Linked DNA regions of Homo sapiens. The protein of the gene in region 2 interacts with the protein of the main gene of each other region in a pairwise test. Each region holds a gene or a part of one and is shown on either strand. Other genes may lie near its edges. The genes, in order: ZFYVE27 and OTOP3.

Region 1 (7,262 bases), on a different chromosome or scaffold from region 2:
TCAGATGGGAGCAGGGTAAGGGGGCAGTACTGTGTGTTCTGGTGTTGAGTGAGTTCTAGGGTCTGTGCCCTGGAAGAAGACAATGGAGTTTATCTTGAGGAATTTGACTCAGGGCCCCCAGGGTCCTGCCTTCCTACCCCTGCAGCAGCCAGGGCAGTTGTTTTCTCAGGATTAGATGTCCTGGACAGGCTCTTTCTTTCTGCTGTGTGAATGTCCCCCAGTTATTCAAGATCCCTTTTTTTTTTTTTTTTTGAGACAAGGTCTCACTGTGTCTCCCAGGCTGGAGTGCAGTGGCATGATCACAGCTCACTGCATCCTCGACTTCCTGGGCTCAAGTGATCCTCACAGCTCAGCCTCCCGAGTAGCTGGGACTACAGGCATGTAGCACCATGCCTGGCTAATTTTTGAATTTTTTTTGTAGAGACAGGGTCTTACTTTGTTCCTCAGGCTGGTCTTGAACTCTTGGGTTTAAGTGATTCTTGTACCTTGGTCTTCCAAAGTGTTAGGATTACAAGTGTGAGCCACCACGCCCGGCCCCTTTGTTTTATTTATGCTGCCTGCTGACTTCTGCAGGGCATTCTGTATGTTCAGTGATCTGTTTACCCTCCATACTTGCACATGTGTGATCTCATTTCATCCTTACCGTAGGTGTGACAGGAGCAGGCAGTTCTTAAGGGTTCAGAGCAGCCAGATTCCAGCAGTGCCCGGTAACACTACACACAAGAAGTATTACTCTGGTCCAGCAAATAATTTGTCTATTTCTACAACTTCTAAGTAAAGGTACTTAGCTGTTCCCATTTTACAGATGAATAACCTGAGGTAAAAAGAGTGCTTTGCCCAGAGACTTTGGCCTGGAAATGGTGGAGCTGTGACTCAAATTCAGGTTGTCTGATTCGGCTCTTGTCTTCTTTCTACCTCTTCATCCTCCCTCTCTGTTTTCCCTTTGCCCTTGCGTGTGAAGTCCCTTGTTTTATGCCTGTCCCGCTTTTGTATTTGATTTTTGGTTTGGATAATCTCTACCAGCATGGGCAGAGGCCTTTTCAGCCTCCCTCAAGGATGGCAAGGGCAGAAAGTGCTTCTTTTCCTAAACTCCTCTTAGTTCCTCATCCTTCAAGACCACTTGCTACTTTCCCTTTTCTGAGATGTTCCCAAGCTCTTTGCCATGAGGGCAGGTGTAGCAGCTCTGCTCCTGCGGCCTCTGCTCCTGAACCTGGGTCCTGAGAGCAGGGCGAGGGGAGCTGCTTTGGGGGCTTTCTCCATTTCAGCGACTATAACGAAATACACTAAGCTGGGGGGCTTTTAAATAATGGAAATCTCTCATCACAGTTCTGGAGGCTGGAAGTCCAAGATCAGGGTGTCAGCAGGATCAGGTTCTGGTGAGGTCCATTTCCGTCGTCATAGACAGCACCTTCTCACTGTGTCCTCATGAGAAGGTGGGAGGGGCACGGCAGTTCTCTGGGGCCTCTTTTATAAGGGCACTAATCCCATTCACGAGGGCTCCACCCTCATGACCCGGTCACCTCCCAGGGGCCCTGCTTTGGGTGTTAGGATTCCACATGTGAATGTTAGGGGACTGTGGTGGGGGCTATTCTATTTACCCCTGCCAGTGGATGAGGGGGTGCATGGGGAGAATGAGGGCAGACTGCAAAGGAGCTTCTCTGTGGCCTCCGTATGGGAGAGGTCTTGGTGGGGAGGGCCCCCCTTTGTCCTGGAGGCTCCATGACTGTTGCCCTGGCAGGCCCCACTGGGCCTTAGTGCCCCTGCTGTCATGGCCTCGGTGGCATCGTCACGTGGTGAGTGAGGATGGGTGAGTCCAGGCTGTTGCTGAGAAGGGGCAGAAAGAGTTGGTAGGTGTTGGAAGGGAACGTCACCTGGCTGAGCTGCTCTCAGCTCCCAGAGCCCTCCCTGGCTCCGGTCTGTGAGTGGGTTCACAGCTGTCTCCCCAGCCCACTTGGCTGCCCTGGGGTGCTTGGCCCTGACATTCCATTCAGTTTAGAGGAGACCTTGGGCTCAGGTCAGTGTCAGTCTTTGAGTAGCTCCTTTTGCCTGTCCCATTCCCCTTGTGTCCCTTGCTAAGGAGAGGCTGGGGCAGGCTGCCTTCCCCAAATTCTTGGTGTAGGGACAGAATCTTGGAGCAGCCAGTTTCCTGGTTTGGCACCAGCAGTAGGCTTGTTCTTCTCTTTCCCTGGCTGACTGACAGGGTGGGCATTTACCTGAAGCACCTTGGCCTCAGATTTCCCCTGGCTCTAGCAGAGGTCTTCCTTTCCCTGAACCTAGGGAGTCTCCTTTAGCAAGAACTTCAGGTGATTTTGGCTGGACAGAGGAAGGGACCACATGTAGCCGTCAATAAAGCTTTGGGGCCTTTCTGTGAAAGTGAGGCCTGGTGCTCTGTACTTGCCCAGACAGGTGGTCCGGCTGGGTCATAGCAGGCCTATGGGCCCCACATCCCAGAAACCTCATTCTCTGTCTCTCCTCTCCCCTTACACCCCCTTGTTGTCTTCTAGCCATTTTCTAAGCTGCCGTTGCCCCTCCACTGTTGCCGGGCACTTGGCCATCTTGGCATCTCTGGTGGTTTAGGCAGGACCTCTCCCTGCTCTGCGTCCCCCCATGCCACTCACTGCCCACCACAATTGAGCATTCTACCCTTCGTGTCTTTACAGTTGAGCATTCTACCCTTCATGTCTTCTTGGAATGTGCCTGGCTCTGAGTTTCTCTCCTGCAGTCTTCAGGGGACAGAAAGCAGGAGTTTAGGTTTTTAGGAGTTTCTGTCTTTAGCCTGTGGGTGGAGTATTTGTAAGGCATTGCTCCGGAAAGGGTCATGTTAGGCAGGTGTCATTTGGGGATGCCTGTGGTCAGGTCCCTGCCAGCTTAGCTGGCTTTCTTGGAGTGGATTCTGCTGGGTGCTCTTTGATTTCTGTTGAACCTGTAGGTAGGGCCACTCAGCTCTGGAAGGGTTCAGGGACTGGTAGCTATGTATGGCTGGAGACATCAGTCCTCAGGGGCTATCAGTCTTCTTAGTTTGAGTCCTTCTTTCTGTCTCTGAATCTGGCCTTGCTCCCTGGCTCACTGTGTCCAGCCAAGGAGGCTGGGCTGGTGTCCTGAGTGTCCCATTTAGAAGCGCCAGGAGCAGGTGAGCGTGAGAGTCCTGGGATGGGCGGGGGTTGAGCTGCTGCCTCTGTTTCTCAGGGAACTGCACGGGCTGCTCGGCCACCTTCTCAGTGCTGAAGAAGAGGGTGAGTGTCTGTGAGGGTGCATTTGTTGGGGACAGTGTCCTTGGGACTGTCGGGTGGGGAGGAGTTGAGGGGAGTCATTGAGAAAGTCTGGCTCGGGTCACATTGGGCCTGGCAGTGGCTTTCTGGAGTGAGTGTGCCCTCCCCTGCGCCTGTGCCACCTTTTACCAGCCTCCCCAGGGGGTATTCCATTTGCTCTCTTTCCTGCTCCACTTGGGCACCCCCCAGGCCCAGTTTCCTTGGGTGGGATCAGCTGGTGGAAAGGAGGGAGGTGCTGAGAACTCCAGGTACCTGAGGGTGAGGGACACATCTGACCTTGGCTCTTGTCTGCAGCGGAGCTGCAGTAATTGTGGAAACAGCTTCTGCTCTCGATGCTGCTCCTTCAAGGTGCCCAAGTCCTCCATGGGGGCCACAGGTGAGTGGTGCAGGTGGTGGGAGGGCTTGGTTGGTATCCCGCCCAGGGGATGTCACGCTGTGGCACAGAGGCAAGGGTGTCAGAGGTCAAGGGAACTTGGGATTGTAGTCAGGCCTACGGGAACGTTTCCTCCATCCCCTTTAGCAAAATCCTGAAACATTTGGTACATGCCGAAGAATAGATATGATGTACCTGTGAATTGTGAAGGGTAATAACAAGATGAATACCTGTGGCTGCTTCACTAAAGTTGAAAAACAAGAGCCCTGGCAACACCCCCGCAGCTCCCAGCACTGCTCCTGCCTTCCTGGAGTCAATCACCAGCCGCAATTTTAATCTTTTTCTTATTTCCTTGGCACTTTGAACAAAACTAAAAATTCCTTTTTTTCCTTTTATAAAATATAAAATATTTCCTATACATATTGTAAATAAAAAACACAGATAAGCAAAAGGAAAAAAAATTCCTGATTTCTTCCTGAGAGAACAATCGGGCATGGACCCTGCTGCTCATTAGCTTGCATGTAGAATAAAAGCACATGCATATTCCTGAAAAATGTGGTCACATTTCATGTACCGTTTTGTAGTATAATGTTAAACCAAGTTTTTTTTTTTTTTTTTTTGAGACGGAGTTTCACTCTTGTTGCCCAGGCTGGAGTGCAGTGGTACGGCCTTGGCTCACCACAACCTCTGCCTCCTGGGTTCAAGCAATTCTCCTGCCTCAGCCTCCCGAGTAGCTGGGATTACAGGCATGCGCCACCACACCCGGCTAATTTTGTATTTTAGTAGAGACGGGGTTTCTCCATGTTGGTCAGGCTGGTTTTGAACTCCTGACCTCAGGTGATCTGCCCGCCTCGGCCTCCCAAAGTGCTGGGATTACAGGCGTGAGCCACCGCCCCCAGCCCAAGTTCTTTTTTCTTCCGATGCAAGTAACATATGCTTACTAACTAGAAAATTTGGAAATTATTATACAGAGGACGAAGGAAGAGAAAAATAACCCTGTAATTTTACCACCCAGAGGTAACCACTGTTAAAACATTTTGGGAAATTTCACTGTGATATTTTACTTATTCTGTTTTTTTGAGACAGAGTCTCGCTCTGTCGCCCAGCCTGGAGTGCAGTGGCGCCATCTCGGCTCACTGCAACCTCCGCCTCTTGGGTTCAAACAATTCTTGTGCTTCAGCCTCCTGAGTAGCTGGGATTACAGGCGTGCATCACCATGCCTGGCTAATTTTTGTATTTAATATTTTATTTAAAAATTTTTGAAGGTGTTCTGTTGGTGCCACAATAATGTCTAATTCATAGCACAGGAGTGGCCTGCTGTTGGCATCATCACCCCCAGGATCCCCAGTTCCCATGGAAAGAAGAATCTCTGCGGGCAGGCTAGCAAGCTGGGCAGGGAGGGTGTGGGCTGGGTGGGGGGTCTGTGTGGGGCATTTGGGAGGGTGCTTCTAGTAGTTGGGGCCATGAACCAAAGGGCGCAAGGAAATGTCTCACCAAGTTCTTCCTCCTTTTCAGCCCCTGAAGCCCAGAGGGAGACTGTGTTTGTGTGTGCCTCGTGTAACCAGACCTTGAGCAAGTGAGAAGAGAGGCCAGGGTCCAACCAGGCACCCGTCCTTGGGACCAGCAGTAGACCCCCCACTCTCCCCACCCCTGGCCCACTGTGGTGTGTGCTGGGCAAATGTGGCCTGAATGCTAGGTAGGCTTCCCCTTCCTTCCTCACTCTCTCCAGCTGGATTCTGGAGCTGTTCTCCATCCATGAGAGTGGCTGGCAATGGCTGCTCTCAATCCCTTGAGGGAGAAGAGCCCCTGGAGGGCCTGGCATGTTTGTCCTGCTCTGCCTGGGACTGAGCGAGTGGACTTAGGGCTGGGCAGGCAGTAGCCACCAGAGGGCAGCAGCGAACTAGGCCAGGCCTGACTGGGGTCTGAAGATCAGGGTCAGTGTGGCTGTGCCTGGGAATTCCAGACCTGAGGTTGGGAAAAGAGGTTTTTCTCCTGCAGGGTACTGGGCCAGGCCCTCAGCCTCAGAGAGCCTGCAGAAGGGCTTGGGAGTGCCACACCCCATCTCTGCTGATTGAATGTCCCTCCAGGCACCAGGATCTCATCATTTCCCCATCAGAGGGTGTGGCCAGGCCTAACAAGACCATGGGTGCTTCTAGAAACAGGGTTGAAGTTCCCAGATTCCCTGAGAGGAGAATGTGTATAGGAGGGTTTGGCTGAGTCCTTCAGCGTTAAGTGGAGGAAAGCTTGGGGAAGCCCCAATAGCTGGACAGACCTCGGCCTCCCCTCGAAGACACCTCAATTCACAGACTCTCAGCCCACACAATGCCCCAGTGTCCCCAGCTCCGCTGGAGCAGCTGCAGGGCACTTGGATCACAACTTCTGCACCCTCTGTCCAGAGTCTAGGGCAGTCCTCCACTGGCCCAGCACTCCAGTTTCCTTTCCCTGCCTCTTGTCCAATGGAGTGGGAGGCCAGGTGAGTGGAGCAGAGGTCCTGAAGCCCTTGACCCCTGGGGGCCTGGGTAGTGTAGGATCTCGCTGGGCTGGGTCCTGGATTCCAGGGCTATTCCCTGGAGGACAGTCTCAGTTATGGGATAAGGCCCCCTGGGGGTCTCCATTTCTTTCCAACAGTTTCATGTTCACTACTGGACTCTTACGGGCTCAGTATCTCTCCCTTAGCCATGAGCTGGCTCAGGCATCCCTTCCCTTCCCTGGAGCTGCCCTGCCTTTCTCAAGTATTTATTTATTTATTGCATGGTTCCTGGGAACATGTGGCACAAGTAATGGGATGAGGAGGAATTGGGGGTGGGGGTCTTCTACCTAGGACTCTTCCCTGGAGTCATGGGCTGCCTGGGACCCAGGACCCATGAGGGGGCTGAGAGGTTTCTACACTCGAGGAGCAGGGGTCCAGAGAGGCAGGCTGGGGAGGCAAGGGACCCATCCTAGGCCCGCTTTCTTGCCGAGCCAAGCAGCTTAGCTGGGGCTGTGCAGCCAGGGGCTTACCCAGGCCAGTGGAGGTGCCACAGCCCTGGGGAGCCAGACAGGCTTTGGTATCGTATCGCCTCTGTGTCCTTTTAAGAGAGGAGAGTTCAGTACCCCGTGCTTTCTTTACACTGGAGAGGAACTAAAAGGATCTCTGTGTCTATGGAGAATTGTCAATAAAAAGGCCTCAAGCTTCTTGTTTTTGTCATGTCTTTGTGTTGGCATTTTCCCTGAGGCTGGAAGACCAGATCTCTCTGGCACTGCTGGAGTTTTGCAGGCCTGGGCAATTCCTGCAGGACCAGGCTGAGGGGCGGGCCTTTGGGGCACCATGGTGGCAGGGGCGTGGGGGCTGCAGCCTGGTCTGGGTATGAGCTGGGGGCCAAGAGGAGGAAAGCTGTGCCTTGCACGCAGGAGAGGCTCAGCAAATGCTTGTCGGATTGACTTGAGGCCCAGTCTTGTGACCCAATTGTGAGGGCCCAGCACTGGGGGTTGGGGTTGGGACTAGAACTTGGTAAACCCCAAACAATGCAGGCTTTACAACGGAAAGATTTTAACTAATCCCTCTGAGAAAGCCAGAAAGGGTCAGCCTTCAGGGAGGCTGAGAGCAGCAGGAAAGAGGATTGGACATGAGATGGGAAGTG
Region 2 (7,615 bases):
CTTGAACTCCTCGCCTCGAGTGATCCTCCTGTCTCAGGTTCCCAAAGTGCTGGGATTACAGGTGTAAGCCACCATGCCTGGCCCTGATTTTTCTTGACCTCAACCACTACCTAGTCTGGGCCCCCTTCCTTGCTCTCTTGGACTGGTCTTCTTGCCCAGAGTGCCTCTCCCCTACTTAAAGTCCTGCAAAGGCAACTAATTGCCCTCAGTATAAAGTCCAAATTACTGACACAGCCTGCATGGCCTCTCAAAATGAGAGGTGTATGATTAGTATGGGCCTGGACAAGGTTCCAGGTTCTCTGCCCAAGGCAGAGTAGCTGCTGCTGCTTCCTGGTCTGGCTTCAACTTACCCCTCTAGCATTGTCTTTGACCCTACTCCCCTCTCCTTGGGCTATACCATCTTGCTGCACTTCCTGGAACGCCCCCAGTCTTTGCCCACACCCTATTCTTTGCCTTTAATGCCTACCCCTTTTGCCCCTTGGGTAACTCTAGCTTGTCCTTCAGGACTCGGCAGAGACCCTGCCTCCTCTCTGCGGCCTTCCCTCGTCAGCATTCCCACCTCACCCCACGCTGACCACCCATCGTCCTCTGCTTCCATTAGCTGTGCTTTGCTCTGTCTCTCCCTTGAGACCCCAGGCTTCAGGAGCTTCAGACGTGCCCTCTATGCAACACCAGAAGACTCTCACCATATCTGGCTTGAAAATGCAACCTCTCCGGGCTCCCATTCTCCCCTTGTCATATTCTCCCATTCTCCACCTGCTCCATATTTATACCTTCTGCTGTTCTCTTCTGGGGCAGATGGAGCACTAAAACTTAAGCCTCTTTTCAAGATTCTATAAATGATTTTCTCCCCTTTCCCACTCCACTCTGTCATCCTTGCCTAAGTTCTGTCTCCTCCCTGTCCCACCACCCCTGCCGTACTCAAGGCACCTGCCTCCCACACCAACCCAGGCCCAGGTAGAAAGTTCTGCGTTTCTCCCATGGTCTCCTGCCTCCTGCCATCCCTCCTGGACACTGCTCTTCTTTCTGCCTCCCCCACCACTCGCCCATCCTCCCCACCCACCTGGAAAGCCTTCCTCTCTGCCTAAGCCTTCTGGTGCTACTTTGCTGGGGCCACTCCCCTCTATTGAGAGGTGTGCCCTGTTTGGTGTGCTGTGGGTGTGGCTGGCTCCCATTAAGTCCTGAAACTCCTCCAGGACAGAGACCGGGTCCTGCTTAACTTGGACCCCCCAAACCTAGTGCAGATGTGACATTCACCCAGTGATTGCCCACTGACTCTGGCATCTTTTGGGAAATTTTCAGCACCAGAGCTGTGGACAGAGACCCTTCCCATTAAACTCTTTCCGGGCTGGCTGGGGAGGAGACTCCCGATGATCTTTATCTTTCCCTCCTAAGCTCCCCCACCCAAATTGAGCAAGGCTGGGGCTCACCGGGATGTCTCCCTGCTCCATATATCCCAACTGTAACTGCTCTACTTCACCTTCCCCAAAACCTGCACCCTCTCCTCCAGCCCCCAAGCAGGGTAGATTAATGATCAAGTGCTCAGATTCCAGCACTTATTACCTCTGTCATCTTAGACTACTGAGACTACTACAGAGAGCTACTTAGACTCTGTGCCTGAGTGTTGTCATCTGCAAAACTGATATACAACTATGGAATAGTAGCTGGTGCATAGTAGATGCTCAATAAAGACTTCCGGAACGAGGCTGGCTGCAGTGGCTCACGCCTGTAATTCCAGCACTTTGGGAGGCTGAGGTGAGCGGATCCCTTGAGCCCAGGAGTTGGAGACCAGCCTGGGGAACATGGCAAAACCCTGTCTCTACAAAAAATACCAAACAATTAGCCAGGTGTAGTGGCATGCACCTGTAGTCCCAGCTACTCGGGAGGCTGATGTGGGAGGATTGCTTCAGCCTGGGAGGCTGAGGCTGCAGTGAGCTGTGATCGCCACAGTGAACTCCAGCCTGAGGGACAGAGTTAGACCCTGTCTCAAAAAAAAAAAAAAAAAAAGGGTGGGGGGGTGATGAATGCCGAATAGGGGCTTTGTCAGAATGACATGATTTAATACATGCACGAAGCACGGGCAGAGAGTAATGCCGGCAATGCCTGGCACCTGGAAAACTCAGTGTTGGCTATCTCTGCATTTCCTTCCAGTTCTTTTGAGGTCCTGGAGAGCTGGGAAGGGTCGGGATTACTGGTGAAATTTCAAGGGTGAATTTTATTCAGACTGGAGGCCTGGAGGGGACACTGGGGGACAAGGTTCCAGGTTCCCTTCCTCTGGGGTCTTTGCCCTGACAGTATCCCCCGTCTCCCACCCTGAAGTCCAGCCCTCCAAAGGCCGCTGGCGTGAGCCTTCAAAGGAGCGAATTTGGTCCCGGGCTGGGCAGGGGGCAGGAGTGGGCATTTAGGGGTCTCGGGCAGAAGGCTGGGGCAAGGGCACCTGGAACTGACAAGCAGTACTCTGCCGCCCCCTGGCACGCCCCTGGGCGCGACGCCAGTCCAAGGGAGGGCCGGGACACTGGACTGGTTTGTGGGTCTCGGCTGGATTGGCGATGAAAGCCGCGGAGCCGTCGGGCCCGGCGCCCGGCCCAGCAGCGCAGGGCCGGCTCCGAGGAGGCTGCTGAGTGCGGGCGCCCTCGGGATTTCCTTCCGAGCCATTTTAGGGACTGCGGGGCCGGGGCAGCCGCTTCCTGCGTGCCCCAGACCGGGCGTCCAGACAGCCCCAACCAACCTCACACCCCAGGCCTCCGCGCTTTCTGCTGTGTGGACCCGGCCGGGAGGAGTCGCGCCCTGAGGCCCTCTGTGCTCCCCGGGTCCACGGAAAGGAGTAGGGGCGCGGAGCGCGGGTTGCGGGGCGGGTGGAGGGGCCGGCCTCAGATTAAAGGGAGTTCACCTCTCCACAGTCACCCCGCTTTCCCGTTCCAATCCCTGCAGCCCCTACTTGTGAACCCCCCTTTTGGGGGGGTGGGTAGTATGTGCCAGTGTCTGGGGTGCGCAAGCTGGGAAAGTTCCGCCGGCGCTCCGGGCTTACCTGAGGCCGGGAGAGGCATCGCCGTGGGCTAACCACCGACTGCGGGCGCTGAGCGGATCGTCCGTCCAGGTGAGACCGATGCCCGCGACGCCCTCCCCCAGCGGGACTGCGCAGCCGCCGCTCGGGCTCCGCGGCCCATCGATTTTTCTGTTGACTTTGGAAATCTCATTAATCCCTCGTTAATTACCCTCCCGGGGGCTCGGACCCAGAGGGTGCAGCCAATTGCGAGGCAGCTGGACAAGCGGGCGGGGCTGAGGGCTGTGCAGGCGCGGGCCTGCAGGGTCTCCAACTCGCAGCCCGCCCTCGGATGGGGTGGAGAGGGGTGCAGTGTTCTTAGGTCCGCAGTAAAGAGCTTGCGGAATTCAGGCCTCGTTTTCCTTTGGTGATCAAGCTGGGAATGGACGCCCTCCCTCCAGGCCTGGAGTCGCTTTTTCCTGTACCCTACCTAGCCCCAGGCCTGGAGGCCGCCTAGCAGGACCCTGTGTTTCCCTTAAGTCAAACCTGAACTTGGTGGGGAGAGTTGGAGCACAGCCCCATTCTGACAGGGGAGGAGGCCTCCTCAGCTCCACCTGCGGCCTCTGAGAACTACTCACCTCCTTCTGCTGACAGGGTCCAGGCACACTTTCCTCAAAGTCCCCTGAGCTCCCAGTGCTGCTGTTCCCATGATCTCCCCCAAATGCCATCTGCTCCATGGGTCCCGCCCAGCCCTCCCTCTCCCAGCCCTTCCCCTCCCTCTGCCTCTGCATGCTCACCACCACCTTTCACTCTTCTAACTGTGGAGCCTCCTTCCCATCTCTCTGCTGTCTTCCCTCCTAAGCATCTCTATACCCTTTGTAGAGTAGAAACCCTAGGGCTTAGGGGAAACTCCTCGGGGACCTCCTGGGGCAGGGGGAAGTCAAGTGGTGAGGATCTGAGACTCCCAACTCCTTTTAAATTAGAACTGCCTTGTTTATATCTTTTTTGTTTGTTTGTTTTTGTTTTTGTTTTAGACAGGCTGGAGTGCAGTGGCATGATCTCGGCTCACTGCAACCTTTGCCTCCTGGGTTCAAGTGATTCTCCTGCCTCAGCCTCCTGAGTAGCTGGGATTACAGGCGCACGCCACCATGCCCGGCTACTTTTTGTATTTTTTAGTAGAAACAGAGTTTCGCCATGTTGGCCAGGCTGGTCTCGAACTCCTGACCTCAAGTGATCTGCCTGCCTCGGCCTCCCAAAGTGCTGGGATTACAAGCGTGAGGCACTGCACACAGCCTATATCTATGTTATAAACTTGTGTTCCTGTAATATTTTATTTGAAGGGAAAAATGTTCTGCTTGAAAACAAAGTTTGAAAATTATTGTTCTTAGCAGAAAGGCTCTGGATTTTTTGCAGGTGTGTGACCTTGGGCAAGTCACTTTACCTCTCTGGGCCTCAGCTTCCTTCTTTGTAAAATGCAGACATTAGACTAGGTCACTGCTTCCTAAACTTTCTTCTGTCATGGGACACACACAAAGAAAATGATTAGGTTGAGTGCTGTGGCTCATGCCTGTAATCCCAGCACTTTGGGAGGCTGAGGGGGGAGGATCACTTGAGCCCAGGAGTTCAAGACCAGACTGGGCAACACAATGAGACCCTCATCTCCACACACACACACACACACACACACACACACACAATTTAGCCAGGCGTGGTGGCAGTAGTAGCTGTAGTTCCAGCTACTCAGGAGGCTGAAGTGGGGGGGTCTCTTGAGTCCAGGAGGTTAAGGTTGCAGTGATCTATCTGCACTCCAGCCTGGGCAAAAAGGTGAGACACTCTCTCAAAAAAAAAAAAAAAAAAAGATTATATGTATATGCCACCTGGAGATAAAGGGAAGAGGAAGATGGCAGTTTGGGAACTCCAGTTACCCACCCTGTAGCTAGTCTGTCATTTGGATTTTGCTCACACACTGCAAAACTTGAGACCTGAAAATCTCCAGGGGCCCTTCCCGCTCTGACTCCCAAGATCCTCTCCTGTGACCACCTCAGACGGGACAACAGAGACAAACAGTGGGGATGGGGGCAAATCACAGGTTTATTGGTTTCCAGCTCCGGGCAGTACACTGGCCAGGCCACAGCAGGGGATTAGAGATGGAACCAGAGCCGGCACCTCCAGATCTTGTTGGGTCCTAGAAATGCTGCCAGGAGAGGTCTCCCTTCCCCAGTCACCTCATGCCCCACGGTCATACTGGGGTGGATGGGCCTGTCCTGACTGTGATTTAAAAATTGAACCTGGAAAAATAACTTTTGTGAAAATTCCACTCTGGGACCAGAAGGAAATGGGCTGTCATATGGCACCAGCTGGGATTCATTCCCAGAGGGTGTCTGAGTGGGCACATGAGCTGAGCCCCCTCTTCCTGCCCCCCATGCCTCTGTTGGAGGCCTCAGGACAGCACGTAGACCTCCAGCAGGCTGGACACAGCGTGCATGCGGTAGAAGATGCCGAAAGGGAGGCAGATGTTGACGATGACCGCCCAGAGGGAGTAGCCGTAGAAATCCACCTCCACTGTGTTGCTGAAATGAGGGCGGGCCCCGAAGGCAGGCATGATCCACAGCTGTGTGGAGAGAGGAGCATTTCAGGAGCTGGCCTGGATGGATGCCTGTGGGTCATTTCTGTGGGTTTTGCTGGGCCGTGGCTAGATGGCGGCCCATCCTTCTAGCTTGGTGGACACGGAGGGCTGGGTGTCAGTGAATGGGCAGCTCTAGCATTTTGGACAGGACCTAGCACACTCTAAGGGGCTCAGGAAGTGAGCCCAACTGAATTCGCCATCCCTAGGCTAGCCCACCTCATGGACACCTGTGATCACCTCTCCCAAAATCTTAGCAGGGCCTCAATGTGGGATTGGGGAGGGGAGAAGAGGTTTCTCTAGAAGAAGAGGTACAAACAGTGAAATCAGCAGCTCTGTCCTGGGGGGTTTTGTGCACAGGGGTGGGGGTGGCAGAATCAGATAGGCTCAAGGCAGGGGTTTGGGGTTCAGACAGAAGGCCACCCCACCCCAGCCCTCCTTGAGCTCTGCCCTCCAGCTCTCCCCTCATCCCCTTCTCCCTTTCCAGGAGTGGGAGGAAGTGGAAGTTGGAATCCTGCTTCCTCTCTGGCTAGGAGCTCAGAAGATTCAGGTGTGGGTAAGAAGCAAAGAACAAAGGTTTCTAGGCTAGCTCCACCCCTACCCCTGATTAACTTCATCCTTGGGCACATTGCAGTCCCCTCTAAGCCTGTTCTGTCCTATAAAATGAAGGAGATGGAGAAGATGCTACTGGAGGTGATTTAGGCTCAGATGCCTGGAGCAAGAATAGCCTCCCAGAAGGTGGCCCCTAGCCTATAAGCCAGGCCTGGGTGGAAGGTGGAGGTGGGGCCAGAGGGCAGGGGGCCAGGTACCAAAGACGTTCCAAGACATGCTGAGGTCTGGACCTTAATGATTCTGCTGGTAGGGTCAGAGATTGATGACCACATTTTTTTTAAGTGAAATTGATTGTGTTGGAAGGCTCCTGCGTGGCATCATCCCACATCTATGGGGACCATGACCTGGTGGATGGCCCTTCACAGTGGGACCTCACTAAGAATGACTCTTAGTTAGGGCCACTGGTGTACCTCATGCAGGTAGGATTTCATGGGGTAGAATTCACTCTGGGGCTCTTGCTCTGTCCTGGGATATACCCACATTAAGTAATTTTCTATATTAGGGATATTTTTCTATTGGAGGTTCTAGCTGGAAGGATTGTTTTTCTATTGAGTGAAACTTCATTAGAATTGTTTTTTTCTCTTTGAGATGTACCCACATAGGTACATGTTTCTATATCAGAGGTAATAATAAGCCCCCACTGGGCCATTTCTGTCTTGGGTTGTACTAGAAACACCAGGAGTGTTTTCCTATTGGTATGCACTTTCATTACCAGTGTTTCTGCCCTGGGGTACTTCTATACAGAGAATATATTTGTATTGGGTGAAGTCTATTGCTTTTTTTTTTTTTTTTTTTTTGACAGAGTGTCACTCTGTTGCACAGGCTGGAGTGCAATGGTGCAATCTCAGCTCACTGCAACCTCCGCCTCCTGGGTTCAAACAATTCCCTTGCCTCAACCTCCCAAGTAGCTGAGATTATAGGGTGCGCACACTACCACGCCTGGCTAATTTTTGTATTTTTAGTGGAGACAGGGTTTCACCCTGTTGGCCAGGCTGGTCTCGAACTCCTGACCTTGTGATCTGCCTGCCTCGGCCTCCCAAAGTGCTGGGATTACAGGCGTGAGCCACTGCACCCGGCCAAGTCTGTTGTTCTTAATCTTTGCTGAGTCACTAGGGAGGGGGTGGCTGTTGTAGATGCCCTCCTTCCCAGTTCACTCTGCTAACAGACCGCTCACACTTAACACTGGTCTCCGCTACTTCCTGACACTGTTCCAATTATTCTGAGAAGCAGGCAGATCACAAGTTCCCAGGAGCAGTCACACCTCCCACTGGGGGGTGAGGACCCCGCCTTCCACATCAGCTCTCAGCTCCCTCTCACCTCTGCCCAGCCCCTGTGTCAACCTTCCCTGGGACCCTTCCAGCTCCATCTGCTGCTTAGATGCCAGAACGCTAGGATTT

The links.
Region 1: the proteins of OTOP3 (region 2) and ZFYVE27 interact in binary tests that used the Homo sapiens proteins (3 or more experiments, as listed by UniProt).

What each region holds. Positions count from the first base shown.
Region 1 is NC_000010.11:97,754,079-97,761,340, forward strand, and holds the end of ZFYVE27 (protrudin), read left to right. Parts: intron 1-648; coding exon of another isoform or gene 649-674; exon of another isoform or gene 675-3,186; coding exon 3,187-3,233; intron 3,234-3,563; coding exon 3,564-3,645; intron 3,646-3,789; coding exon of another isoform or gene 3,790-3,800; exon of another isoform or gene 3,801-4,103; intron 4,104-5,157; coding exon 5,158-5,222; 3' UTR 5,223-6,817; downstream 6,818-7,262. UniProt on the Homo sapiens protein: Key regulator of RAB11-dependent vesicular trafficking during neurite extension through polarized membrane transport. Promotes axonal elongation and contributes to the establishment of neuronal cell polarity.
Region 2 is NC_000017.11:74,931,354-74,938,968, reverse strand, and holds the start of OTOP3 (proton channel OTOP3), read right to left. Parts: upstream 3,062-7,615; 5' UTR 3,048-3,061; coding exon 3,029-3,047; intron 1-3,028. Other genes in the region: proton channel OTOP2, read right to left, coding at 5,424-5,594. UniProt on the Homo sapiens protein: Proton-selective channel gated by extracellular protons.